Homo sapiens: one gene and its partners. The main gene of each other region encodes a partner of the protein of the gene in region 2 in a complex. Each region holds a gene or a part of one and is shown on either strand. Other genes may lie near its edges. The genes, in order: TXNL4A, LSM4, PRPF4 and SNRPG.

Evidence for each region.
Region 1: LSM4 (region 2) and TXNL4A share a complex: the UniProt entries of both Homo sapiens proteins name them as parts of the precatalytic spliceosome.
Region 3: LSM4 (region 2) and PRPF4 share a complex: the UniProt entries of both Homo sapiens proteins name them as parts of the precatalytic spliceosome.
Region 4: LSM4 (region 2) and SNRPG share a complex: the UniProt entries of both Homo sapiens proteins name them as parts of the U4/U6-U5 tri-snRNP complex.

What each region holds. Positions count from the first base shown.
Region 1 is NC_000018.10:79,985,542-79,992,723, forward strand, and holds the start of TXNL4A (thioredoxin-like protein 4A), read right to left. Parts: upstream 3,023-7,182; 5' UTR 2,852-3,022; coding exon 2,699-2,851; intron 1,210-2,698; exon of another isoform or gene 1,097-1,209; coding exon of another isoform or gene 1,061-1,096; intron 1-1,060. UniProt on the Homo sapiens protein: Plays a role in pre-mRNA splicing as component of the U5 snRNP and U4/U6-U5 tri-snRNP complexes that are involved in spliceosome assembly, and as component of the precatalytic spliceosome (spliceosome B complex).
Region 2 is NC_000019.10:18,313,072-18,320,096, forward strand, and holds part of LSM4 (U6 snRNA-associated Sm-like protein LSm4), read right to left. Parts: exon of another isoform or gene 6,446-7,025; intron 4,610-6,445; exon of another isoform or gene 2,995-4,609; coding exon 2,953-2,994; exon of another isoform or gene 2,598-2,952; intron 1-2,597. UniProt on the Homo sapiens protein: Plays a role in pre-mRNA splicing as component of the U4/U6-U5 tri-snRNP complex that is involved in spliceosome assembly, and as component of the precatalytic spliceosome (spliceosome B complex).
Region 3 is NC_000009.12:113,278,647-113,285,671, reverse strand, and holds part of PRPF4 (U4/U6 small nuclear ribonucleoprotein Prp4), read right to left. Parts: intron 6,728-7,025; coding exon 6,541-6,727; intron 3,027-6,540; coding exon 2,939-3,026; intron 2,541-2,938; coding exon 2,461-2,540; intron 2,284-2,460; coding exon 2,190-2,283; intron 1,378-2,189; coding exon 1,283-1,377; intron 1-1,282. UniProt on the Homo sapiens protein: Plays a role in pre-mRNA splicing as component of the U4/U6-U5 tri-snRNP complex that is involved in spliceosome assembly, and as component of the precatalytic spliceosome (spliceosome B complex).
Region 4 is NC_000002.12:70,283,716-70,290,740, forward strand, and holds part of SNRPG (small nuclear ribonucleoprotein G), read right to left. Parts: intron 5,658-7,025; coding exon 5,635-5,657; intron 4,478-5,634; coding exon 4,353-4,477; intron 3,657-4,352; coding exon of another isoform or gene 3,546-3,656; exon of another isoform or gene 3,483-3,545; intron 1-3,482. UniProt on the Homo sapiens protein: Plays a role in pre-mRNA splicing as a core component of the spliceosomal U1, U2, U4 and U5 small nuclear ribonucleoproteins (snRNPs), the building blocks of the spliceosome.

The DNA of each region.
Region 1 (7,182 bases), on a different chromosome or scaffold from region 2:
AGTGCCCAGATGAAAACTTTATTTATTATTATCACTTTATCAAATGAATTGCCCCACATTTATTAGCAAACTCTAGGCATCTGTGAAATCTTTTAAGCATAGCTCTGTTTCCAAACTGACTTTATTCCTGAAGTTTACAGCTCAACTCTAATCCAGCATGAAGTCAAGTGGGCCCTGTGGAAGCAGCAAATCAATACAACACATCTAGGAAAAATCATATCAAGTCCAGCCTGAACATTTGCAACTGTTACTCACTTTAAAACAGCTGGAATATCCAGACAGAACTCGGAACAAGGTAAGGAAGAGTCCCCATTATCTGCCATTTCTGCACAGGGAAATTTTTAAATAGTTATATTGTTCTTTATACTAAAACCTTATATTTCAAAAATTTCTGTTGAGCTTCTCCAAAAAAGGGCTTCCAGAATTAGGAAGTCATATTTGCCCATAGACTAAGAAGAAAATAAAACATGAATATTCTTTTAATGCATTTCAGGTGTGCACTTTTTTTTTTTTTGGAGACAGAGTCTCACTCCTGTTGCCCAGGCTGGAGTTCAGTGGTGTAATCATGGCTCACTGCAGTCTTGACTTCCCGGGCTCAGGTGATTCTCCCACCTCAGCCTCCCAAGTAGCTGGGACTACAGGCACGTGCCACCACGCCCGGCATTTGTACTTTTAGTAGAGAAGGGGTTTCACCATATTGTCCAGGCTGGTCTCGAATCCCTGGGCTCAAGTGATCGCCTACGCTGGCCTCCCAAAGTGCTGGGATTACAGACATGAACTACCGCGCCTGGCCTAGGTTTGCCCTTTTAATAACTATATTATAATATTCGCATTAAAAGTTTATTAATAAAGCTATCCAAATTTTTGGACAAAAACAAAAATCAGACTATTTTAAAAGACCAAAAAAAATACCCCAAAGTGAGCCCATTTCAACTGTCCTTAAGTGTGTGTCCACTATGTGTGTCCACTAGTGATACAGTGATTCATTCTGTAATAACAAAGAAATTGGACATAAAGGAGTTGGAAAAGAGCAAATCTGGCAAAGACCCTAAACACTTACATTAACACATAAAATCTGTTTTCTAGCTAAGAGCATCTTGCTGAGCTGTGCTCGGATGTGATGAGACAAAGGCCCTCACATCTCCAGCCATCCTAGCCTCGAGCTGCCGGCAGCAGGATCTGAACACCACCCGATGTTTATGCCACCACCTGCAATGTAGAACAGTGAAAGATTCTAGAATTCATAACTCAAAGTCAATACAGCAGTGATTTACTTATTGGGAAACTGCTCTTAGTCAATTCTTCGCTGGATTTCCAGTATCTGCCCTTGTCCACTACAGCTCAAGCAATGACAAACTGATGTGTGGCACTGCCTCTCTCATCATCTCTAATCCCCGGCTGGCAGAACCCCCAGCGTGTGAGAGAACTGCTGCTCTCCCGAATTCCCTAGGTCCCTCCTCAAGTCCTCAGTGTCCAGGAGGAAGAGGCTGCGAGATGGCTGGTACTAAAGCTACTCCACCTCCATCCCTGACCCCCATGGAAGGTGGTTCAAGGTCAAGTCGCATCAGAATTCCCTGAGGGGCTTCTTTAAAAAGCCATTGCTGGACTTCACCCCATACCCATAGAATCAGAATCACAGATGCATTCTAGTAAGCACTCCAAGGGAGTCTTGTAATAACTAAAATATAACAACAGTTCCTAACTTCATGCCTCTCCTACTAAATAAGAAATAGCAAAAATTAATAAATGGCAGGCCAGATAGTCTTTCCTTTCCTGAATATAAAATATGTCCTTACATCTGTTACTCTTTACTCAAAGGAGTTATTTTAACCCAGGCCTACTTTTTAGCATCTGTGAAAGAAAAGATAGCTTCAATGTTACTTTTACTCTTCATTAAAAGGAATAACCTCTCAAATTACTTATGGAAAATTAATATGGCAAATATTTTATTAACACCCTAGTATTTGTGCCCTTTGCCCTATTGCTACAGCTGCAAAACCTCAATAAAAGTCATCCTAAAATTGCTATGAGGAACCACAGAAAAAGAATGAAATCTGGTTATAAAATAGTGTCCTACAACTTTTATTGTCAGCAAGTAAATGCCAAGACCACTCAGTGTACTAATATTAGAAATTCAGAGAACTAATTCTAACAAAGCATATTTCTATTTTCTCCTGATGTTTACTGCACCTCAATCACTGTAAGCTGTAAACCACATGACTCACAAAAAGCGTGGTGGGATAAAAAAACACACCCACAGAAAAGCAGGATTTCTCATGCTATGAACATGAAAGTCCTGCTTTATGCATACAACGAATAACTCAGGTACCAAAAAAAGACGTCCTTTTAAATTAAGGATCCGCGCTCTCAATAAAACCTGCAAGTGCATTTTGTTCACTGAACTATAAGTTTGGGAAAAACGCCTTATCAACAGAAATAATTAATTCATTTGAGAGGAGGGGGATCATAAACCCTTTAAAATATGAAAAACTACAAGAGCTCCCCGCAGAAAAAGGCGTGAAACGCCGGCACAGTCCCCGAGAGCGCTCGACCGCAGCGAGGGGAGGAATCGCCTGAACGACGGAGCCGCGGCCCCTCCTCGGGGAACAGCTCGCGCCCCCAGGCGACGCCGGCAGGGCAGAGGCGCGGGGCAGATGCGGAAGCACAGCCCGCAGAGCGGGAGAGTCCGGCGCGCTACCTTCTCGGCGATGCTGTACAGGACCTCGTCCATCTTCATGCACGTAGGATCCCAGTCGTGGCCGAAGCGGATGACGACCACGCGGTCCTCCTCCGAGAGGATGGCCTGGTCCACCTGCCAGCCGTTGTGCAGGTGCGGGAGCATGTACGACATGGCGGCCCGCGCGCTCGCCGCCGCCCAAGGCGGGGCGCCAGGGAGGGCCCAGCGAGGTGGGCTCAGCCGGCCCCTCACTCCCCGGCCCCCGCCGCCCCCGGGCCCACGGACGAAATCCGGTCCCGCCCGCACACGCAAACTCCGCTGGGACTGCCACCCGGCAGAACGTCTGGGCGCGCACGCACCGACGCCGTGCGTGCTGACGGCATGCGCGCGCGCTAGCGCCGTGCGTGCTGACGGCATGTGCGTATAGGCGCCGCGCGAACGTGTAGTTGGCCGGGTGGAGCGGCGGCGACCTGGGCACCGTGGAGCGCCGTTGGTTCCGTCATAGCAGCTGTCGGAGTGGGGGTTCCTCCCCAGCGTCCAGGCGGCCTGGTGGTCCTGAGAAGCCCCGGGCTCGCCGTGCCCTGCCCCCACGCTCCCGCCCCGAGGCCGCCCGCCGCCGCCCGGGCTGTCCTCCAGCCACGGATGGGGACGTCCAGAAAGGCCCGGAATGCCCGGCACTGCGGCTCGTTTTCTTCCTTTCTGGTGCTTGTTTCTGTGTGTTACTAAGACAGTTCATGTGTGTCATTTGTGAAACTTGATCATAAAAATGTGTCGTTGTTGCCATACCCAACCACAGCAGAGTCGAGCAGCGGGGTAGGGAGGAAGCACTGGGCAGGCCGTCCTTGAGGAATGTCACCATCAGGCCGGCTGCTGAGCTGCCTGTTGTAACCTGAAACCAGGTTTTTTAATTTGTCTTTTTATAAAGAAAAAAAATTTTTTTTTGAGACGTGCAGTGACGTGATCTTGGCCCACTGCAGCCTCCGCCTCCCGGGGTCAAGCGCTTCTCCTGCCTCCGCCTCCCCATAAGCTGGGACTACAAGGCGCCAGCCCGGCTAGTGTTTTTTTGTACTTAGTAGAGACGGGGTTTAACCATGTTGGCCAGGCTGGTCTTGAACTCCTGACCTCAAGTGATCTGCCCGCCTCGGCCTCCCAAAGCGCTGAAATTACAGGAAGAAGCCACCGCGCCCGACCTAAAGCCAGTTTTATTCCATAGCTTCAGCATAACTTCCACCTCCAGGACTGATCTGGCCCCCTGGCTTCGCTCACCAGTCAGAGCTCCCCAAACCCTTACTAGTGCCAGTGAACTTTCTCAAAGAGAAATAAGTTAATATTTCTCTTTTTAAAATAAAACCTCTAACCTCTGTTCTTCTGAGAGAGCACTTTGGGTTCATGCTGGAGACTCCCTGGTTTGCAAACTGATATTGATAGTAAAACTCTTGTCTACTATCTAGCTATCCTGGTGGTCCTTTAGATGACAAATTTAAAACAAATCACGCCCGGGCGCGGTGGCTCACGCCTGTAATCCCAGCACTTTGGGAGGCCGAGGCCGGCGGATCGCCTATGGTCGGGAGTTCAAGACCAGTCTGGCCAACATGGTGAAACCCCGTCTCTACTAAAAATACAAAAAATTACCCGGGCATGGTGGCGCCCGCCTATAATCCCAGCTACTAGGGAGGCTGAGGCAGGAGAATCGCTTGAACCCAGGGGGTGGAGGTTGCAGTGAGCTGAGATCGCACCACTTCACTCCAGCCTGGGTGACAGAGTGAGACTCCATCTCAAAAACAACAACAAATCACTATGCAGATGCTGTGGTGTCTCTCAGATGGGCTGTGGCATGGTGAGAACTACAGTCTGAAGAGCCTGCTGGCATGGGGATTGAAATGGGTTCCATGTTTGGTTTCCTCTGGGACACAGCACCATAAGGTGCTTTGATAATATGCACCCACAATTTAAATACTAGAATCACAAGTGCAGCTCACTGCCAGATTAAGCTTTTTACATAATACAGAATATTTCCCAATTATATACGAAATGCTTTATTGTAATGAAACAATTTCAGGTTGGTAGGATATTAGAGATCATCTAAATCTCTTTCATTTTATAATTGAGTAAAGCAGAGGCACAGAATATAAGCATAGTGGTTAACAGTGAGGGTTTTAGTTACATAAAGGCGTGTTCAGGTTCATCTGTGCCTTGCATAAGTTATCTCAACAAACTTCAGTTTCCTCATCCATGAGATGGGATGATAAAACAAAATCTCCTGTACTTCATTGGCACCAGGTACACACTGGAGAAATCTGAGCCCTTACTAAGGTCAGGCTATTGCCTTCTAAAAAATTCCTTACCGTCATTTTGGTAGTCACTCATTTCAGATACAAACACAGTTGCTTAACACATCACAAGCATTTTATTCACAGGAGAGTTGTTCCAAGCTAAGGCATAAGACTCAAATGTCCCCAAATAATTTATTGAAACTCATTTTTTATTGTGTTACTTATAACAAGATTTATCGCCTTAATTTTTAAGGACATTAAGTACATTCATATTATGCAACCATCACCACTATCCATCTCCAGATAAATCTTTTCTTTAATAAAAACTTTTGGCCGGGCGCGGTGGCTCACGCCTGTAATCCCAGCACTTTGGGAGGCCGAGGCGGGCGGATCACGAGGTCAGGAGATCGAGACCATCCTGGCTAACACGGTGAAACCCCGTCTCTACTAAAAATACAAAAAAAAAATTAGCCGGGCGCGGTGGCGGGCGCCTGTAGTCCCAGCTACTCGGGAGGCTGAGGCAGGAGAATGGCGTGAACCCGGGAGGCGGAGCTTGCAGTGAGCCGAGATTGTACCACTGCACTCCAGCCTGGGCGACAGAGCCAGACTCCGTCTCAAAAAAAAAAAAAAAAAAAAACTTTTGTTGAGATCTAATCCATATACTATAAAATTCACCAATTGAAGGTGAGATGGTTTTTCAGTGTTGTGGAACCAATACCACAATCTAATTTTAGGAGAATGTTATCACCCCGAAAAGAAAACCTATACCCATTAACAGTCATTTCCCATTTCCCTCCCATTCCCTCAGCCCCTGGCAATCACTAATCTATTTTCTGCCTCTATAGATTTACCTATTCTAGACATTTCATATAGATGGAAACACAAAATATGGAGTCGTTTGTGACTGCTTTCATTTAACATAATGTTCTCAAGGTCCATATTGTAGCAGACATCAACAGCTAGTTCTTTTTAATTGCTGATGAATATTTCATTAAATAAAACAAAAAATTAGAAACTATTCCATTATATGGATATACTACATTTTATCCATCAGTTGATTGACATTTGGGTTGTTTGCATTTTTTTACTATTATGAGTAATGCTGCTATGAACATTCATGTACAAGCTTTTGTGTGGACTTAAGTTTTCATGTGGTAACTGTTTAACATTTTTAAGTATTGCTAAATTGTTTTCCAAATTGGCTACACCATTTTACATTCTCACCAGGAATGTGTGAGGGTTTCAGTTTTTCCACATTCTTGCCCATGCTTGTTATTTATGTACCTCGTGAACCCCAAAAATCTGAGACAGGTCTCAATTAATTTAGAAAGTTTATTTTTCCAAGGTTGAGGATGCATCCATGACACTGCCTCAGGAGGTCCTGATGATATGTGCCCGAGGTGGTCGGGGCACAGCTTAGTTTTATACATTTTAGGGAGGCATGAGACATCAATCAATATATGTAAGAAGAACATTGGTTCAGTCTGGAAAGGCGGGACAACTTGAAGCAAGGACAGGAAGACTCAAAGCGGGAAGGGGGCTTCCAGGTCACAGATATGTGAGAGATGAACAGTTGCATTCTTGTGAGTTTCTGATCAGCCTTTCCAAAGGAGACAGTCAGCTGTGCATCTGTCTCAGTGAGCAGAGGGATGACTGACTAGAATGGGAGGCAGGTTGAAGGGACCCAAGATACTTTCCTTTCACAGCCTTGTATTATGGTCATACTGGTAGGTATAAAATGATAAGGTGGTTTTCATTTGCCTTTTCCTAATGGTTAGTGACTGTTCCTCAGTGGCCAGGCCTATACAAATCTGCCCCAAAGTCAGAGGAAGCTGAGACGCCAAAGAAAGGGACTGGCAAATCTAGTTCTTTAGAGAGAAACATTTAATAGGGACTTATGTACAGAAGCCACATCTGTGTCTCTGGCAGTGGTGAGACAAGGTGGTGGTTTCCCAACCATCACCCCCAGGCCCAGGGCCTTCCCAGACCCAGGGCTTACATACTGTGAAAGGAAAATAAATCTTGTGACCCCAAACTCATTAAGCCAAAGGGAAAAGTTAAGCTGGGAACTGGGTCAGGCAAACCTGCCTCCCCTTTTGGTTCCTAAATAAGAGGGCTGCAAGATGATAACCTACACGCCTCCCCCATATTTTGCCCACAAGGAAATTCCTGGTGAGCTCCAAGATTTCTGCCCTAAGGTGTTCCTGTTAAAATTTCGCCATGGTAATGTAA
Region 2 (7,025 bases):
AGCTGGGCATGGTGGTGCATGCCTGTAGTCCCAGCTACTCGGGAGCCTGAGGCAGGAGAACTGTTTGAACCCAGGAGGCGGAGGTTGCAGTGAGTTGAGATAGGGGGAGGTTGCAGTGAGCTGAGATCGCACCACTGCACTCCAGCCTGAGCAACAGAGTGCCACTTGGTCTTAAAAAAACAAAAAACTAAGAAACACAGAAATGTTTAAAGGAATAAGTGAGACAATGGTGATGGTGGCCACTGATCCAGGGTGGCTGGGGGCCAGGTGGGCACAGCTGGGCTGGTCCTGGCAGGCACCCCCACAACACCAGATATTTGGGCTTCAGTGTTCCACAAATGCTGTTTTTTACTGCAATAATTACTCATCTATTTTGGTATGTTTTGAGAACAAAGATAAGTAGCAGATCATTCTGAGGATATGCTGCTGTTAGGAAAAGACTGATATTTTTTGGTGTCTTTTATGAGACAGGGTCTTGCTCTGTTGCCCAGGCTGGAGTGCAGTATCGTGATCATGGCTCACTACAGCCTCAACCTCCTGGGCTCAAGCCATCCTCCCACCTCAGTTTCCCTAGTAGCTGAGACTATAAGCGCACACTACCACATGTGGTTAATTTCTTTTCCTTTTGTAGAAGTGGGGTCTCACTGTTGCCCAGACTGGTCCCAAACTCCTGGGCTCAAGTGATCCTCCTGTCTTGGCCTCCCGGGGTGCTGGGATTATAGGCATTAGCCACCACACTCAGTCCAAGCCTGAGATTTTCTTTTGAGATGGAAGTTTCTCTGTTGTTGCTCAGACTGGAGTGCAATGGTGTGATCTCAGCTCACTGCAACTTCTGCCTCCCGGGTTCAAGTGATTCTCCTGCCTCAACCTCCCAAGTAGCTGGGATTACAGGCGCCTGCCATCACGCCCAGCTAATTTTTTAGTAGAGACGGGGATTTCACCATGTTGGCCAGGCTGGTCTTGAACTCCTGACCTCAGGTGATCCACCCGCCTTGGCCTCCCACCAGGGCTGAGATTTTTAAATGACTCAACTTAGGCATCTGCCCAAGAGAAATGAACACAGGCAACCATACAAAAATGTGTGCGTGAATGTTCACAGTGACACTGTTCGCAATAGCCAAAAAGGGGAAAGAGCCCAGATGCCTATCAGCAGACAAACACATAAACAAAATGTAGGCCGGGCGTGAGCCTGTAATCCCAGCACTTTGGGAGGCCGAGGCGGGCGGATCACGAGGTCATGAGATCGAGACCATCCTGGCTAACACAGTGAAACCCCGTCTCTACTAAAAAAAAAATACAAAAAAAATTAGCCAGGCGTGGTGGCGTGTACCTGTAGTCCCAGCTCCTCAGGAGGCTGAGGCAGGAAAATGGCGTGAAACCAGGAGGCGGAGCTTGCAGTGAGCCCAGATCACTCCAGGCTGGGCGACAGAGCTAGACTCCCTCTCAAAAAAAAAAAAGTGGTAAGTATCCGCTCCACGGAGTATCGTCTGGCTATAAGGAATGAGGCACTGACACAGGCCACAGGGTGGATGAACCTCAAAAACACGTTGCTGAGTGACAACCACCAGGCTCGAAAGGCCTCATGGTCTCCGTTCGCATGCATGGGAAATATCCGGAATAGGCAACCCCACAGAGACGGCAGCTGCCTCATGCTCATCAGGGACTGGGGCTGGGAAGTGACTGCTGATGGAAATGGGCTTTCCTTTTGTGGAGACGGAAATGTTCCGGCCTAGATAAAGGTGGTGGTTACACAACCTGTGACTGCACCAAATGCCACTAAATTGTGCACTTTAACTGAAGTGTTAGTATGTAATATTATCCTTTTTTTTTTGAGATGGAGTCTCGCTCTGTCACCCAGGCTGGAGTGCAGTGGCGCGATCTCAGCTCACTGCAAGCTCCGCCTCCCGGGTTCACGCCATTCTCCTGCCTCTGCCTTCCAAGTAGCTGGGACTGCAGGTGCCCGCCATCACGCCCGGCTAATTTTTTTGTATTTTTAGTAGAGACGGGGTTTCACCGTGTTAGCCAGGATGGTCTCGATCTCCTGATCTGCCCGCCTCGGCCTCCCAAAGTGCTGGGATTACAGGCATAGAGCCACCACGCCCGGCCAATATTATCATTTTTTGGAGACAGGGTTTCACTGTCACCCAGCGACCTGCAACCTCAAACGCCTCAGGCTCAGGTGATCCTCCTGCCTTAGGCTCCCAACTAACTGGAACTACAGGTGCACGCCACTACACCCAGCTAATTTTTATATTTTATGGAGAGACGTGGTTTCTCCATGTTGCCTAGACTGGTCTCTGAACTCCTGGGCTGAAGCCATCCTCTAGCCTCAGCCTCCCAAAGTGCTGGAATTATAGGCCTGAGCCACCATGCCCAACCTGAAGTTCTTTTTATTTTTTTAAGTGACAGGGTCTTGCTATATTGCCCAGGTTGGATTTGAACTCCTGGGCTCAAGTGATCCTTCCACCTCATTAATTTTCTTTTTCTAGAGACAAGGTTTCACTCTGTCGCTCAGACTGGAGCGCAGTGGTATGATCATAGCTCACTGCAGCCTCAAACTCCTGGGATCAGTCGATCCTCTTGCCTCAGTCTCCTGAGTAGCTGTGACTATAGGCACACACCACCTCATCTGGCTAATTTTAAGTTTTTCTTCTTGCCCAGGCTGATCTCGAACTCCTGAGCTCAAGCGATCCTCCTGTCTTGGCCTCCCAAAGTGCTGGGATTACAGGCGCGAGCCACTGCAACTGGCCCATTAAATTTTTAGTAAGTATGTATGTATTACTCTTACAAGCAGCAGAAATGACAGGAGTGTGGACACTCCTGGGGAGGGAGAAGAGAGCAAACTGCCATGCTGGTGGACAGGCAGGCCAGGAAGCCGTCTGCTCAGCCACCGCCCCTGTGCTGAGGCTGGCCCCCTCTCAAACAGGCTTTCCCAGACCACTGAGTACTCACCATGGGGTGATTCTGAGCCGTCTTCAGCAGTGACAAGGGAAGCTGAAAGGCAAATAAAGCCACATGATTTGTCTGTTTGACCAGCGCCTGGGAGCTCTGGTCTTGAGTCCCACCCATGACTCATAGATGGTGCGGTGCGGTTGAGGGGGCACAGGAGTGCGTGTCAATCACCCCCCACTGGAAATGCCATTTCCTCACTCTGCCCAGCCCTGGAACACACACCTGCCTCTCAGATTAGGAAGAAAAGCCTCACACACCCTCCCTACTCCCGTAGGTGGCCACCACCTGCTCTTGGTGCTGAACACTCTGGTCAATTTTTTTTTTTTTTTTTTTTTTGAGACGGAGTCTCGCTCTGTCACCCAGGCTGGAGTGCAGTGGCATGATCATGGCTCACTGCAACCTCCACCTCCCGTGTTCAAGCCTCACAAGCAGCTTGCCTCAGCCTCCCAAGCAGCTGGGGACAACAGGCATGCGTCACCACACCCAGCAAATTTTTGTATTTTTAATAAAGGCGGGGTTTCACCATGTTGGCCAGGCTAGTCGCAAACTCCAGACCTCAGGTGATCCACCCGCCTCGGCTTCCCAAAGTGCTGGGATTACAGGCATGAGCCACCGTGCCTGCCCTAATGCTTGTATTTTAAGCTCAAACTGGTATCTCTGAGATGCATCCATGTTGATGAGGTTACTCTGAGTATGGAGTTGAGGACACTACAGCTTGGAAACCCGAGGAACTTGCCCAGTACTATGGCGCTAGGAGGAGACAGAGCTGGCCTGGTCCTGTCTGTCTGAAGCAAGCACAAGACCATGCCTTGCAGGGCAGCCCCAACTGGCCCAAGACTGACACTGCCAGGCCCCAATGCAGGGGTCAATCCCATCAGAGAAGGCCACATCTGAGCTGGTTTTATTTTTATTTTTTTAGATGAAGCCTTGCTCTAAAAATACAAAACTTTGCTGGGCACGGTGGTGCGCATCTGTAGTCCCAGCTACTTGGGTGCTGAGGCAGGAGGATTGCTTGAGCCTGGGAAGCAAGCCTGTCACCCAGGCTGGAGTGCAGTGGTGTGATCTTGGCTCACTGCAACTTCCACCTCCCGGGTTCAAGTGATCCTCCCGCCTCAGCCTCCCAAATAGCTGGGATTATTAGGGGTGCACCACCATGCCCAGCTAATTTTTGTACTTTTAGTAGAGATGGGGTTTCTCCATGTTGGCCAGGCTGGTCTTGAACTCCTGACCTCAAATGATCTGCTTGCCTGGTCCTCCCAAAGGGCTGGGGTAACAGCATTGAGCCATCACCCCCCGCCTGAACTGGGTTTTCTTTTTTTTTTTTTTTGAGACGGAGTCTCGCTCTGTCGCCCAGGCTGGAGTGTAGTGGTGCAATCTCGGCTTACTACAAGCTCCGCCTCCCGGGTTCATGCCATTCTCCTGCCTCAGCCTCCCGAGTAGCTGGGACTACAGGCGCCCACCACCATGCCCGGCTAATTTTTTTTTATTTTTATTTTTGTATTTTTAGTAGAGACAGGGTTTCACCGTGTTAGCCAGGATGGTCTCGATCTCCTGACCCCGTGATCCGCCTGCCTTGGCCTCTCAAAGTGCTGGGATTACAGGCGTGAGCCACCGCACCCGGCCCTGAACTGGGTTTTCAAAGACAGGAAGTCACCAGGTAAGGTGAACTTTCAAGATTTTTTTTTTTGATGGTGACAGGCTTTTACTATATTGCCCAAGCTGGTTTTGAACTCTTGGCCTCAGGGAATCCTCCCATCTCAAGCTCCCAAGTAGCTGGAATTATAGGTATGCACCACCACGCCTGGTTTCAAGATGTTTTTTTCCATCATTACTGAATTTCTTTATTATGTCAAATATGTAGTATTTCTATTACTGGGGGGGAAATCAACACTTTCATTTTGGAAACAGAAAACTCAACCCGTACGCTGGGAGCTGCCTCGGGTAACGCAGAGCTGTGCCTGGGTGCGGGGTCCTATAACATGCCCGTTCTAGTACTGCCATGAGGAAGGCCCCAGCACCAAGGGGCCCTGACAAGACAGTGCCTCATGGGACACAGGCTTCACCTAGCCCTGTCCTGGTGACTGGAATTCCAGGTGGCCCTGACCCCAGATGCCTTTGCTGGGAGTCCTGCCCTGGCCACCACCCTAATCCACAGTGTGGCTGCTTTTCCAGGTGGTGTGAACTTGAAGGCCTCTCCCTGTGGAGGCCGGAAATGGCCCTCAACCCTGGCCGGGTGGCTCCCCAATGAAAGGAAGGGGTTGGGGAGGGAATCCTACATCCCACAGCCCCTTCCTGAGAAGAGCTGCCCAGGGGAGGTTGGTGCCAGCAGGAAGCCAGGCCCAAGCCCACTTCCTGCACCGGCTTCCTGGAAGAGCCAGATAAGGGGGAAGAAAGGGCCATGTGGCCCCGGGGCAGCTGCTAGGAGAGGCAGGGGAGGAGGGCTGCGGGCGGCTGGGTGTGCATCTGACTGGGTGCCACCAGCCACAGAGAAAACACAGGAGCCACAGACTGGCACACGGGTCTCATGCCCAGGTCGCCCTTTACTGTGAAGAAGCCGTGGGTTTTCCTCAGCAAGCCTGTTTTCTTTCTCTAGTCCGTAACAGGAACGGGACCTTGGACCTCCTCCTGGATCACCAGGGAAGGCGCAGAGGTCAGGCTAGCCCTTAAAGGCCCACCTCTCATTCTGCAGAGGAGGCGCCAGCGCCCACAGCAGAAGTGACCTGCCCAGGGACATCCAGCAAGGCCCTGGCAAAGCTGCCCAGAGGCAGGTAGCTTGTAGACACACCTTCCATGCCAGTGACAGACCCTCTTGGGCCACCACCTGGTCTCAGCGACCAATAGCACAGCCTGGGAGGACCCACGGCCTCCTTGCCTGTCACTTGCAGTCCCATCCAAAAAGCAGCAGAAAGAACATCTGAGAAACAAAGAGAGCTGGTGGGATGGCCACGGAGGCTCTCGCCTGTAATCTCGGCACTTTGGGAGGCTGAGGCGGGCAGATCACCTGAGGTCAGGAGTTCCAGACCAGCCTGGCCAACATGGCAAAACCCCACCTCTACTAAAATACAAAAATTAGCTGGGCGTGGTGGTAGGCAACTGTAATCCCAGCTACTCAGGAGGCTGAGGCAGGAGAATCGCTTGAAACCAGGAGGCAGAGGTTGCAGTGAGCCAAGATTGCGCCACTGCACTCCAGCCTGGGCAACAGAGCGAGACTGTTTCAAAAAAAAACAAAAAACAAAAAAACAAAACAAAAGAAAGACTGGCTAGGCGCCGTGGCTCATGCCTGTAATCCCAGCACTTTGGGAGGCCAAGGTGGGCGGATCACGAGGTCAGGAGTTCGAGACCAGCCTGGCCAATATGGTGAAACCCCATCTCTACTAAAAATACAAAAATTAGCCAAGCATGGTGGCGCACACCTGTAGTCCCAGCTACTTGGGAGGCTGAGGCAGAAGAATCGCTTGAACCCAGGAGGCAGAGGCTGCAGTGAGCTGAGATTGTGCCACTGCACTCCAGCCTGGGTGACAGTGACACTTCATCTCAAAAACAACAACAACAACAACAAAAAACCCAAATAGGGTTGGTGCAGACCCACTCTCACAACACTCCTCAGGCCCGCTATAGAGTCAAGGCAGACAGGCTCTGCCACACTGGCCGCCACACCCATTCCTGCCACCTGACCTTTGCTTCTGCTATTGCCTCTGCCTGGGGTGACCTTCCCCAGGCTGCTGAAACGTCACCTCCTTTGGCCAGGCCCTTTTAATGGCCACCCTCTGCCTCATGGGTGTTTGTTTCCATCATAGGATGCAGCCAGTCTTTAATTACCTTGTTTATTACCTGTGTCCCTCGCTAGACTGGAACACTCAAAGTGGGTGTGGACTTTGTCCAGGGCCAAGCACAAGGCCAGGCACATGAGAGGGACTCGGTAAATATTTGCTGAATAAATACACAAGAAAAATGCACACACTACCCAGGGAGGCATGCAGGGAAGGCAGAACACTCGCCCCACCCCACAGGTAAGGGAAGGAGTGGCTGCGGGACAGGGAGCTGCCTGACTCCCAGGCCCTCCCAGGCTGCAA
Region 3 (7,025 bases), on a different chromosome or scaffold from region 2:
GCGCTGTGGCTCACACCTGTAATCCCAGCACTTTGGGAGGCCAAGGCGGGCAGATCACAAGGTCAGGAGATCGAGCCCATCCTGGCTAACACGGTGAAACCCTGTCTCTACTAAAAATACAAAAAATTAGCTGGGTGCGGTGGCGGGTGCCTGTAGTCCCAGCTACTTGGGAGGCTGAGGTAGGAGAATGGCGTGAACCCAGGAGGTGGAGCTTGCAGTGAGCCGAGATCGCGCCACTGCACTCCAGCCTGGCCGAAAGTGTGACACTCCGTCTCAAAAAAAAAAAAAAAAAAAAAAAAAAAAAAAAAAAAAAAAAAAAAAAAAAAAATTTGTAGAGACAGGGTCTCACTATTGTTGCCCAGCCTGGTCTCAAACTCCTGGGCTCAAGTGATCCTCCTGCCGTGGCCTTCCAAAGTGCTGGGATTACAAGTGTGAGCCACCATGGCTGGCTGGCCTTAAACTTTTTAGAGACTTCTTATTTTGGAAATTTTTCAACAAATTACTTTTATATCTATTATCTCGGATGATCTTTCTAACAGACCTGTGAAGCAGGTACGGCAGGAACGATCAAACTTTATAGTGAAGGTAATGAGGCTTGGAGAGGTGGACTCATTTGTGCAGAACCTTGGCTTTCTCCTGAACCCATCTAAAGGTCAGCCTAGTCAAGTAGCTCCTGTGTATTCAATCTAAGTTTCCTTTCTCATTAGATAGCCATGTCCCACAGAAAAACACAACCAAACTCAAACAAAACAACAAAGTTACCACATCCTGAGTTTTCTGCATATGTGGTGATAAGAAAATAAAACAAAGATAAACCAATAATTAACGTTTAACGAGTCCTTACTACATACCAGGCACTGTCAAGGCAAAATGCCTTGCAAACACTACCTCATCCCACTTTACAGGTAAGAACACTGAAGCTTACAGAAATTAAGTATCTTAGCGAGGTCACATAACTGAAAAAGAAAAGCCAGACTGAGTTATGGATACTAGTTGGTCTATAAACTCACTACAGGACCTGTTCCAAAATACTAGTGTCAAGAATGTGACAGAGTGCTTTGTGTAATGGATCTCTGGGGTCACTGGTGAAGAGCGAGAACGGCTAAACCAAGGCTACATTGTATTATACAACAGGTAGAGCACTGACTGACATCTGTAGTTTGGTGTGATCATGAGAAGCAGAGAAAGAGGACGTAGAAATAGACGTCTAACGCAAATGCTAATTTTCTTCCTGAGCCTGTTCCCCATTTAGGAAAAAATGTCATTGTAAAATGGAACTTACCAACAAGCTGTGGCCAGCATCTTGGAATTGGGACTAAAGTGACAGTAGGAGATAGGCCGATCATCCCCAATCTGACTGCAAAAATTATTCAAAGACTTAAAAAGAAAAAAAATACACACACGGTGATCATTAATAGGTTAATCTAAGAGCTCCTTTGCTTTTCCACCATAAAAAGAACAACAAAGCAGCTTTTCAGTTTTAACCCATCCCAAGATTCTTCTATGGTTTTGTTGCTGCTGTTAGAAGACACATACATTGATAAATGAAGTTATATGAAACTCCAGCATGCTGTTTTCTATAGTCTTTTTTTTTTTTTTTTTTTGAGACAGAGTCTTGCTGTGTTGCCCAGGGTGGAGTGTAGTGGCGTGATCTTGGCTCACTGCAACCTCCGCCTCCCGGGTTCAAGCAATCCTCCCGTCTCAGCCTCCCAAGTACCTGGGATTATAGGCACATGCTATCACACCTGGCAAATTTTTGTATTTTTAGTAGAGACAGGGTTTCACCATGTTGACCAGGCTGGTCTCAAACTCCTGAGGCTCAAGTCATCCGCCTGCCTCTGCCTCCCAAAATGCTGGGATTACAGGACTGAGCCACTGTGCCCAGATGTTTTCTACAGTCTTAGGATCACAACTTCTGAGTCAGCTAAATATAAACAGAAAACCCCAGAGAAACTCTGACATATTAACGGGGAGAAATAAAGAATAGAACCATAGGCCTCTGCTGAATACAAAGCACAGTAAGCTCCTGCCACATTAACTGATGGCTCCTTCCATGTCACAGCAGCTCAACTTAAGCAGGGAGGAATCACTCTAGTTGCCTCTACCTTCCCAGAGGTGAGCCAAAGTAGAAAAATCAAATAAACATGAAGAACCTTTAAGATGTGGGACAATTGCTGGGAGCATCTTACCCGGAGAGACTTGTGCAGCTCTTGCATCTGGGAGGTCCTTGTTGTCTCAGGAATCTCCTTATGGAGTCGGGCCTCTTCCAAGCGTTTCATTGCCCTGCGACACAGAAACACCATCACCAGGAGCAACAGGGTTGTAAACAAGGACCCACATGTATCCCTACTCTACCCCTCAATTTCATTTAACAACCATAGTCATTATCCAGCACTCAGTTCCTGAGAGGAAACACACACAAAAAATATGCTTCTTTCTTCTACTGGAGGCTCTCTTTACCTGGGCAACGAATAATTAGCAATCCATAGTCTTGCCACCTTCAAGCTATTTGGTCCTTCATGATACCAGGTTTGCTGATACTGAAAGGCAAATTAAGAGCAGAAAGGTCAAATCTGAAGCATTCTACTCCTCTTATAACTGTCATTTCTCCATTTTAACTGCCCAGAAGGAAGGTGAATTCATTCGGTAATAGGATGAAATCAGGCAGAGGACTTTCTACTGAATTTTTTTCTATGATATGTAACTACATGGTTATACCAGGAATGCCATGATTCTTTCCTGACTGGAAAACTCACTTAGCTCCATTCATACTTACAAAGGAACCAAAACTACTGCCAGCAACTCTTCTTGAATGGTAGAGCCTTCAAAAACATTTCCCCCAACATCTCAGCAAAACAAACCATTGAAAGCAGAAAACGAGAGACCTATCCCCTCATTTCCTTCATGTTTATACTGTGAAGTTAAAGACATGTTCTACCTCTTCTTTGGACTTTTTAGACTTCTCATCATCCTTTTTGGTCTTTTTCAAGGCATCAGTACCGACAACTGAGAGGATATTTCTTAACCTGTTAAAAAAAAAAAAAAAGATCAGAATTTAAACATGGTTGAGATAATACTGTTTTTAAAGTACACTTTAACACAGTTTTAAACACTGTTATTAAAGTTCCCCTAAGATGGGAGCAAGCCTTTACTATTCTCTCACTGTTCAAACCACCTAGCAACCTTTTTTTTTTCTTTTTAAGAGATGAGGTCTTGTTGTTGCCCAGGGTGGAGTGCAGTGGCATGATCATGGGTCACTGCAGCCTCAACCTCCTGAGCTCAAGCGATCCTCCCACTCCAGCCTCCCGAGTGGCTGGGACTACATGTACACTGCTACAACTGGCTAATTTTTAAATTTTTCTGTAGAGAGAAGGGCTTGCTATGTTGCCCAGGCAAGTCTTGAACTTCTGGGCTCAAGTGATCCTCCTGCCTCAGCCTCCCAAAGTGCTGGGATTACGGGCATGAGCCACTATACCCGGCCCTCCAGGAACCTTCTTTAAGAGTCAAGTGGGGATGGCTAAACTCCCAGTGTGGTTTCTCCCACTCAGTCTTCTCTATTTGGAAATTTCCAAAATTCAACTATAAGCAATTACTCTATACAGTTTAGAGTCAATGAGCCCCTACACTGCTACCACTTGGTCTGTGAAGACTGCCAACTTTCACTCAGTGCCACAATGTACTGGATACTGACTCAGGTGCTAACTATACAGTGATGACTAGGAATCAGTTCTTGATTTCAAGTAGCTTAGTCCTGGGGAAACAACAGAGAGTACTGGCAAACTATAATCCATTATATTACCTATCACTATAGCAGTAAGCACAGAGGGCTAGAGGGGACTTTGTAACGGGCATCTAACTAAGCTTAGAGGATCAGGGAAGGCTTCATTAAAAAAAGGTAATATGTAAATTGAGTCCTCAGTTAATCAGGTCAAGGGGGTCAAGAATGAGAAAATGTCAGGCAGAGGGTTAAACAAATAAGGCCTGGAGGTAAGAAAAACATGTTGAGCTTGCAGTCACAAATAATTCAATATGGCTGGAGCGTAGAACATAGAAGAGGACTGGTGAAGAATAGGGCTGCAAATGCAAGGAGGAGCCAGGTCACAAAGAATTGCTAATGCCACGCTCAGGAGGATTTACAGATGAGAAAGATCCCTGAAACAGTACAAAGAATGGATTAAAAGGGAAGAATAATGGCAGGGAAATCAGACAGTACTGTTGTAGTGACGCTCTGAGTCACAACCGTGGACTGAAATTCAGATAGTAGCAGTAGTGACTCAAAGGATTCATTTAAGGAACATAATAATGAATAAGATAGACTTTGCTGGTGGAAAAAACAAACTAAACAATAATAAAAAAGTATACCCTTTGAAAAGGCTAATAAAATAACATACTATGACAGAGAACAGAGGGGTTAGGTGTGACGAAAGGCTTCTTTGAATAGGTGGCATCTATGCTGAAACGAAAGAATAAGAAGTTTGACAGGGATCCAGGTTAATAAAAAATGAAGAAGAAAGGCCGGGCGCGGTAGCTCACATCTGTAATCCCAGCACTTTGGGAGGCCCAGGCAGGCGGATCACTTGAGGAGGTGTTGAGAGGATCACTTGAGGAGGTGTTCAACACCTGGCCAACGTGTTGAAACCCCGTCTCTACTAAAAATACAGAAATTAGCCAGGCATGGTGGCACATGCCTGTAGTCCCAGCTACTTGGGAGGCTGAGGCAGGAGAATGGCTTGTACCTGGGAGGTGGAGGTTGCAGTGAGCTGAGATTGCACCACCGCACTCCACCCTGGGTGACAGAGCGAGACTCCGTTTCAAAGAAAAAAAAAGGAAGAAAAAAAGCCTCTAAAAGACAAGACAGAAGAATAAAAGTAGACCAATTATGTGGAAAGACATAAAAAGAACTAGCATATTCCATAAGGACCAATGTGGCTATTCTAGTAAATTGGGGAAGGGAGACATGAGTAAGGCTGAAGACCTTACAGACCATGGTAAGAGTTTTTTACTCCAAGTATGAGAAGACAATCTAGGATTTTAAGCAAGCAATTAACACAACATGTTTGGGGCTATCACAACAGTGCAGATTTGAAAGCAGTAAAGATAGAGCAAAGAAGATAGCTGGAGTTGTATCTCGCAAGTAGAACAGACCAGATTTTGCTAATGGATTATAAAGGAGGCTAGGCAGATTTTCAACTAAGAATTGTATGAGTATAGGAGAGAGGTGGGGAAATATTTCAATTCAGATGTCTCAAGTTTGAAGTACCTGTGGGATACCTAAGCTGCAGTGAGAGATTTGGGAATCATCAGAACACACAGTGAATGATGCCATGGGAGTAGAGCTGATCACCAAGGGCAAGTAGAGAAAAAGGCAGCCTGTAAAGGGCAGGCAGAGAAAAAGAGGTTTAGAAGGTAAGTGAGAAGAATTAGCTAGTGAGAGAAGAGGAAAATCAAGAGGATTTGTTATTAGGAGAGTGAAGGAAAGGGAGTAGTTCAAGGAGGGAGTATTTCAAGGAGGAGTGGCTGGCAGTATACTAGGGCTATTCTTAGTAAAGGTGGATTGGTGATCTTAACAAAGAGCAATTTTAATGTGGTAGGGGTTGGTCAGTTTGCAGCAGGTTGAAGAGTAAATAAGGGTAAGGACCTCAAGGGAGTAATAGAAAAAACCCTTCCAACAAGCTGGATGATGAAGGGTAGATGAGACAGTGGACAGAGAGACCAGAGGGGCTCCTCATAATTGTGTGTGACTAGACCACAACTAAGACTTCGCAACCTGCAAATAACAAGAGGGCATTATCTGAGGATGGTACCCCTCTTCAATAAAATCCAAGAAACATTTATCATTGTTCTATGTCATTGATATGGAATGCATTTGATGTCTCAATTTTCAAAGCCCAACAACAAATGTTTATCCAATTCAAAACTCGCACTGGGGAGGGGAGGCAAGGGAGCATGTTAGCACCCTCTTCCAAGTCTATAAAGAAAAACGGGCCAGGCACGAAGGCTCACGCTTGTAATCCCAGCACTTTGGGAGGCCAAGGTGGGTAAATCATTTGAGGTTAGGAGTTCAAGACCAGCCTGGCCAACATGGTGAAACCCTGTCTCTACTAAAAATACAAAAATATAAAAAATAACTAAAAATACAAAAAAGAAAAATGTGGTGGCAGGTGCCTGTAATCCCAGCCACTTGGGAGGCTGAGGCAGGAAAATCGCTTGAACCCGGGAGGCGGAGGCTGCAGTGAGCCGAGATCACGACGCTGCACTCAAGCCTGGGTGACAGAGCAAGACTCTGTCTCAAAACACAAAACAAAACAAAACAAAACAAAACAAAACAAAACAAAAACGAACAAACACAAAAAAGAAACATTAATAGTGCGGTAAAAATTGGCCTAAGACAGATTATGGGCTAACTCATATAAACACAGTAAGATATTGTTAACATGATTTGAGACATTCTATTAAAGTTCAACTAAATGATCAACCAAAATTTGGAGTAGAACCCTGTGATTATAATAAAGAAAAAAAGTAAATATTTAGAAAGGCAACCTTTCTCTTCTTTCAGCAGGACCCTCTCCAAAAAGTGTGATGGGTTCCCCCAAGGCTCTAAGGCAAGCTTTGACCTCTGAGTCATCTGTGGAAACATTGATCTGCCGGGCTCGCTTCCTTCTCTCAAACTCAGCCAATACTTCTGCCTGTCGCTCGCTGATATGCTCTTCAATTTCAAACACTTCTCCTATTAAAAAGAAAACAGGCAACATCAGCAGATCTTCTTCAAATAGAGAGAAATAATTTCTAGTAATTGCAGTCTGTGTATGCCCTGAGGGAAAAGTAACTGTCTATTACACATTTTATAGTTTACTGTTTTTCAGTTTATTAAATTATGCCAAACACATAAACCTAAATGACACAGCTTCAAAAGGCAAGAAAATGGTTCAAGCCACCTCTTGTTTCATTTATTAACTTTGTGCCTATATAAACACACACTTTGGCTGAGACCAGCAAGTAAGAGTACAGAACATCTTTTGCAAATG
Region 4 (7,025 bases), on a different chromosome or scaffold from region 2:
TGGCAGCCAATTATCAGCAATGAGTATGATAAGGTAGTAAAGAGCAGATTTAAAAAAGAATGGCTGGGCATGGTGGCTCACGCCTATAATCTCAGCATTTTGAGAGGCCCAGGTGGGCAGATAGCTTGAGCCCAGGAGTTTGAGACCAGCCTGGGCAACATGGTAAAACCCTGTCTCTACAAAAATACAAAAATTAGCTGAGGGTGGTGGTGCACACCTGTGGTTCCAGCTACTCGGGAGGCTGAGGTGGAAGGATCAACTGAGCCCAGGGAGGTTGAGACCACAGTGAACCAAGCTCCATGCTACTGCACTCCGGCCTCGGTGACAGAGTGAGACCTTATCTCAAACCAACAACAAAAACCAGTAAACACAGTGCCCTGAAAATGACAATGGGAACTGAAAGAGTCTAAAGATTGACACTCTTCTTCTAAGTTAACAGAGCTCCCCTCCATTTTTTTGAGACTGGGACTAGCTATGCTGACCAGGCTGCAGTGCAGTGGCTATTCACATGCACAATCACTGCACACTGCATCCTCGAACTCCTAGGCTCAAGTGGTTCTCCTGCCTCTGCCTCCTGAGTAGCTGGGACTATAGGCGCACATCACCATGCCCAGCATAAGCCAGGAGTAGAAACATGCTTACCTAGTTATCAGAATTTTATTTTCATTTTAATTATTATTTTTTTTGAAACAGGGTCTTGCTCTGTCACCCAAGCTGGAATGCAGTGGTTCAATCACAGCTAACTGCAGCCTTGACCTCCTGGGCTCAAGTGATCCTCCCACTTCAGCCTCTCAAGTAGCTGGGACCAGAGGCATGAGCCACCAAGCTGGGCTAATTTTAAAATTTTCTGTAGAGACAGGGTCTCACCATGTTGCCCAGGCTTATCTCAAACTCCTAGTCTCAAGTGATCCTCCTGCCTTGGCCTCCCAAAGTGCTGGGATTACAGGTGTGAGCCACTGTACCTGGCCAGTTATCAGAATTTTAAATTCTCAATTTTTTTTTTGGCAACAGATATTGAACATCACATCTCATTGACCAAAGCAAGAAAAGCTAGCCTTCCTGCCTAGCTCCCTGCTAAATTTACATATTTGTCTTGTCACATAATATTTAGAAAATAAGGCTAAATGGTGAACTTTGTCCCACCTTATCTGTGGTCCAAAAACATTAAATGCATAGTCCCAGCAACAGACATCCGTAAGTTTTACACTGCATGCTGTTCTTAGCAGTGTGATGATACCTCATACTGTCCCTGGATGTGGATTATCCTTTGTCTAGCATCTCCATGCTGCCCATTAATCAGTTATCTCAGTTTTATGATTGACTGTTGTGGTATCAAAGGGTTACTTGTGTTCAAGTAACCCTTTTTTTAACTTAATACTAGCCTGAAAGTATAAGAGCAGTGATGCTGGCAATATGGATATGCCAAAGAGAAGCTGTAAAGTGCTTCCTTTAAGTGAAAAGGTACAAGTTCTTGACTTAATAAGAAAAAGAATCATATGTTGAGACTGCCAAGATTTATGGTAAGGACGAATCTTCTATCTGTGAGATTGTGAAGAAGTAAAAAGAAGTTCGTGCTGGCCAGGCGCGGTGGCTCACGCCTGTAATCCCAGCACTTTGGGAGGCTAAGGCAGGTGGCTCATGCGGTCAGGAGTTTGAGACCAGCCTGGCCAACATAGTGAAACCCTGTCTCTACTAAAAATACAAAAATTAGCTTGGCGTGGTGGTGTGCGCCTGTAGTCCCAGCTACTCGGGAAGCTGAGGCAGGAGAACTGCTTGAACCCAGGAGGCGGAGGTTGCAGTGACCCGAGACCACACCATTGCACTCCAGCCTCGGTGACACAGTGAGACTCTGTCATACACACGCGCGTGCACACACACACACACAGAAATTTGTGCATAGGGTTCACTACTATCTGTGGTTTCTGGTACCTACTCTGAGGATAAAGGAGGCCTATTGTAGTGCTCTTCCTCTTTTGCCACTGTGTTTGAGGCCTAATTCTCCAAATCAAACTTGAACCATCAGGTCCAGAATTACATACTGCTCCCTTTTTTGTGCTTCAATGATGCTACAGAAGGACAACCCTAGCAAGAGTGCCTGAACTATGTAACATAATAAAAAGTAAGATAGAGGCGATGCCACTGACAACTCTGGGGATGTCTCAGAAGATAGTTGAGATTTATCATTAGGTAACGATCCAACTGACAGGTTAAAAACAAACTCACTCCTGAAAACAAACACATCCTTTTTGAGACAGGATCTCGCTTTGTCACAAAGATTGGAGTGCAGTAGTGTGATCTCAGCTCACTGCAGCTTTGACTTCCTGCCTCAGCCTCCTGAGTAGCTGGGACTACAGGTGCACACCACCATGCCCGGCTAATTTTCTAATTTTTTTGTAGAGATGAGGTCTCACTATGTTGCCCAGGCTGATCTCAAACTCCTGGGCTCAAGTGATCCTCCTGCTTCAGCCTCTCGAAGTGCTGGGATTATAGATGTGAGCTACTGTGCCCAGCCAACACACACATAACTGCAATAAAACAGTATTAAGTAATTTCAATGGCCTCAATGGATCACTGACTTGGACAAGGTAATAATGAAGCCAACTGTCCTTTGTTAAACAACTTCTAACAAAATAACAAAACCTTAACCTATTTGTTTCCCTTCTTCCAACTTTAGAAAAGTCAAAAAGTTCATCTCTGTTCTTGCCTTTTAAAATGTCTTTTATTAAAGAAGTCTGATGTGTTATTATTTCTTTTTCAAAGTGAAGACTCAGCAGCAAGAATTACTGTCTGCTGATAAAAACTTTTTTTTTTCTTTGGCTGGGGGTTGGGGGGCGTGTGTGTCACATAAACCTCAGAGATGGAACAGGAGGCTGCCCAACACACTAAGTAGGTAATCATTACTTAAATGACTTGGGATGGCAGTGCTTTCAACCAATTTCTGTGCAAAGAAAATAAAGTCCATAAAGTTTAGGGGGAAAATTGCCAGAGGGATGCTCTATTCCTTCTCTGATAAAATTCCAATGAGCAGTGTGTTACATAATTCTCTAATCTTCTCAAAGCAGAATTGACAATTAGGTGCCAAGTTCTTCCTGAATCCTTTTCAGCAAATTTTTTGCAAGGAACTAAAAACCTAATCTACCTTCTATTAGAATGAAAATTTATTTGTAAAAATAAGGGCTGAGAGGAAAATCTTGGGGTATCTAGAAAATGTTTTTAAAAGGACTTGGCTACTAATCATGCTGGCAGCCTTATTCAACAGAAGCTCACAAGGGAATATACCTGAAAGACAAGTCAATTTACATGAAACTTGGGGGTACAGTGTGGTATCTGGAGACTCTAAACTGTTTTTTCAGTCATAACTATTGATTTGCTTTTCAAAATACAGTAATGAAAAAGTATCTGAAATAAGTAATAACACAAACCTTGGAAAGAATGGTATGTAAAAAAATTAAACAGGCAGAGATGTCAAAATAGGTCTATCTTCAACTTTACTGCTCAAACTTAAAAATCAAGGTTAATAAATCAAGGCTAATAATTAGCAACTCTTACCACTCCTTGGAGGTCTTTATGCTTAATAATTTGCTAAAAGTAAGTTGTCCTTTTTGGTTCACCTTTTTCAAGAACTTTGGGCTTACCGCTTTATTAGGTATGTTGTCCTGTGTTAGACAAAGAGGGACTCAAAGTCTGGGTATCAAAACTCTTCTTCAGCAATCACTAAAACTACGGCCCAATGAATGTAGGAATGTTTAATCCTATGAGGGCTCAGTATGTGCTTATTTTTTCCTGCTTTTTCTCTCATGTGAATAACTGTCATTGTGATTATCCCTTGTAACTTTTACCTTGGCTACCTTAAAATTTTGGGTGTGGTAAACCAGAAAATCCAGGTTAACTATGTATACAAGTAAAATCAGAAAGTGTTACCTGTGAACTGGCAGATCTGCATTAGGCATTAGTAGAAATGCAAAACCTTAGTTAAGTTCTGCCCCATACCTACTGAAGTAGAATCTTCATTTTAAGAAGATTCCCTGGGGATTCATATACACATTAAGGTTTCAGAACTACTGCTCTAATGAAGGACCAACTATGAGCCTCTATTGCAGAATAAAGCTCAAAAAGGATTTCCAACAGCTATTTCAAGCGCTAGGACCTTAGGTTCTGTATAGTTGAGATCTTACCTACAGGTAACCAGGATATTACTACAGCTGAGTAACTGCCGTATGCAACTAAAAAGGAGATGGAAAGTCTAATCTTGCCTGTTATTTGCCATTTCTGGGGGTTACTAACCAGGAAAGTTAATACACATTCCAAAAGAAAAATGAAATCTCCAAGAGAACTCTTGTATCTTTACTTACCACCATTCCAATATTGTTCTGTTGTCCACTAGTCGCCATCTCCACACATTCATCTATCACAAGGTTCATAAAGGGATCAAATCCCCGCAATATTCCTTGGACATGTCTGCCACCATTTAATTTCACTATTAAAAAGAGAAAAAGAAGTTTTAGAAAAACATTCCATTAGCTACCAAGCATTCACTAAAAATCAGGTGGGATAAAACACAAGTATTTGAGATGTCTGAAACCCACTATCCTTACTGTATGACAAGAACTGGGTTAAACATTTTTGTATTTACTTCCACATTTTAATTTATAAGAATCCTAAAAAGTAGTATTATCCTTACTTTATAGGACAGAACTAAACTTCAGAGCTTTTTTAAAATTTTTATAAAGATGGGGGCTCCCTATGTTGCCCAGGCTGGTCTCGAACTCCTGGGCTCAAGGGATCCTCCCGCTTTGGCCTCCCAAAGTGCTGGGGGATTATAGGTGTAAACCACCGTGCCCGAGCTTTTAAGTAACTGGGTTCATGGTTATACAGCTACTGTACGACAGAAGTGAGATTCAAGCTGAAGGCTGCTTACCTCTAACGCTCATGGTTTTTTCCCCTACATATATTTCAAGTACTGTGTGGGTCAGATTTTTAGATAAATTGAACAAATGTTATTCCTACATATTCCCAAGAAACAAGATAACTGTTCCTTGTCTAAGTCCTTTGTAGCTTGTTTAAAGAAAAAAGGTTGATAAATCCTGTTAATTTTGCCAAAGTGAGGAAGGGCTTACATAAGATAAAGTCTGAAGTGCTGTTAAATTAATTATCAGAAATTAGGTAAATAAAATTGTCTAGTTAGGATTAAGTAATCTGCTTAACTAACGGATGTGAATTAGAGGTCCTGTGTGCTTTAAATTTTTTTTTTTTGAGACGGAGTCTAGCTCTATAGCCCAGGCTGGAGTGCAGTACCGCCATCTTGGCTCACTGCAAACTCCGCCTCCTGGGTTCATGCCATTCTCCTGACTCAGCCTCCCGAGTAACTGGGACTACAGGCGCCCGCCACTGCACCCGGCTAATTTTTTTTTGTATTTTTAGTAGAGACGGGGTTTCACCGTGTTAGCCAGGATGGTCTTGATCTCCTGATCTCACGATCCGCCTGCCTCGGCCTCCCAAAGTGCTGGGATTACAGCCGTGAGCCATCGCGCCTGGCTGCTTTAAATTTTTATAAAGTTGCTCCAAACATTGCTAAGACACATGTAAAAAGCAATTAAATAATTAAAAAAAACCCCAAAACAACAACAAACTTACATGATAACTTCTTGTCCATAAATCTGAAAAAGGAAAAGGGTAAAGATTATATAACCAATTAAAAAAATTTAAGCATAAACAAGTAAATAGGTATAGTTAAGATAATTTGCTAAAATTTATACAATGGGAATAATGAAATCTAAAATAGTAAAAATAATGTATTGCTGTAAAGAGTGAGGGAGTAGGGCGAGGTAGCTCACGCCTGTAATCCCAGCACTTTAGGGGGCTGAGGCGGGTGGACTGCTTGAGCTCAGGAGTTGAGACCAGCCTGGGCAACATGGTGAAACCCCATCTCTACCAAAAATACAAAAATTAGCTGGGGGTGGTGGCACATGCCTATGGTTCCAGCTACTTGGGAGGCTGAGGTCGGAGAATCACTGGAGCCTGCCACGTTGAGGCTGCAGTGAGCCATGATTGCGCCACTGCACTCCAGCTTGGGCAATAGAGCGAAACTGTCTCAGGGGAAAAAAAGAGTGGGGGCGTAAAGGGTTACCTAAATTAGACATTCTAGGAAGCAAAGTAATTTGGGAAGAGGAAAGGCAATAAAAATGAAACATATTTAGACTATATTAATTTACATTAAGTAGAGTATACTAATGTGAATTACATTCTTATTGTTCAATACTACGTTGTTTCATTGACCTAAATTTCTTTCTTTTTTTTTTTTTTTTTAAGAGATGGGAGTCTCATTATGTTGCCCAGGCTGGTCCTGAATTCCTGGCCTCGAAAAATATACTCCCCCTCAGCCTCCCAAAGTGCCGCTGGGATTACACAGGCATGAGCTACCACATCTGGTCTCATTGACCTAATTTTCAATGACTGGATTTTATAGTCACAAGAGAAAAACAAAGACTTGCCTATGTTTGGTTATTTCCAAAACTAAGTTGTAAAGACAGCAAACAGTAATCAAATCATATCCAATTCAATAGGTATTTTATATTTGAAATAAGTAGTGTTCTTTTATTTAATATTAAAGCATCAAGCATAAATGTTCAGGGTAGTCCTCAACATTTAAGTATATTTTAGAATAATAAATGCACATTTGAAACTTCAAACGATATGAATTAAAAAAAAATTCCATTTTAGTGGAATACGAGATTAAGCCATGCAGTCAAATCAGTTTTTAATTTCTTCCATATAGGCCAGAAAACATAAAATTTCATTCAATTTTAAAAATTTCATTCAAATTTTAAAATATAAAAAAATGAAAAAAAGATGTTTAGTATATGGGCCACGAAGTGGGGCACTTATTCAATTTTAATGTATAGGATTATCATGGGAAAATGTAAATATAAAACAAGGAGCATGACTGAAGGAGGGAGTAGATACATTTACAAGTAAAAATATATTTATGGGCTGGGCGCGGTGGCTCATGCTTGTAATCCCAGCAC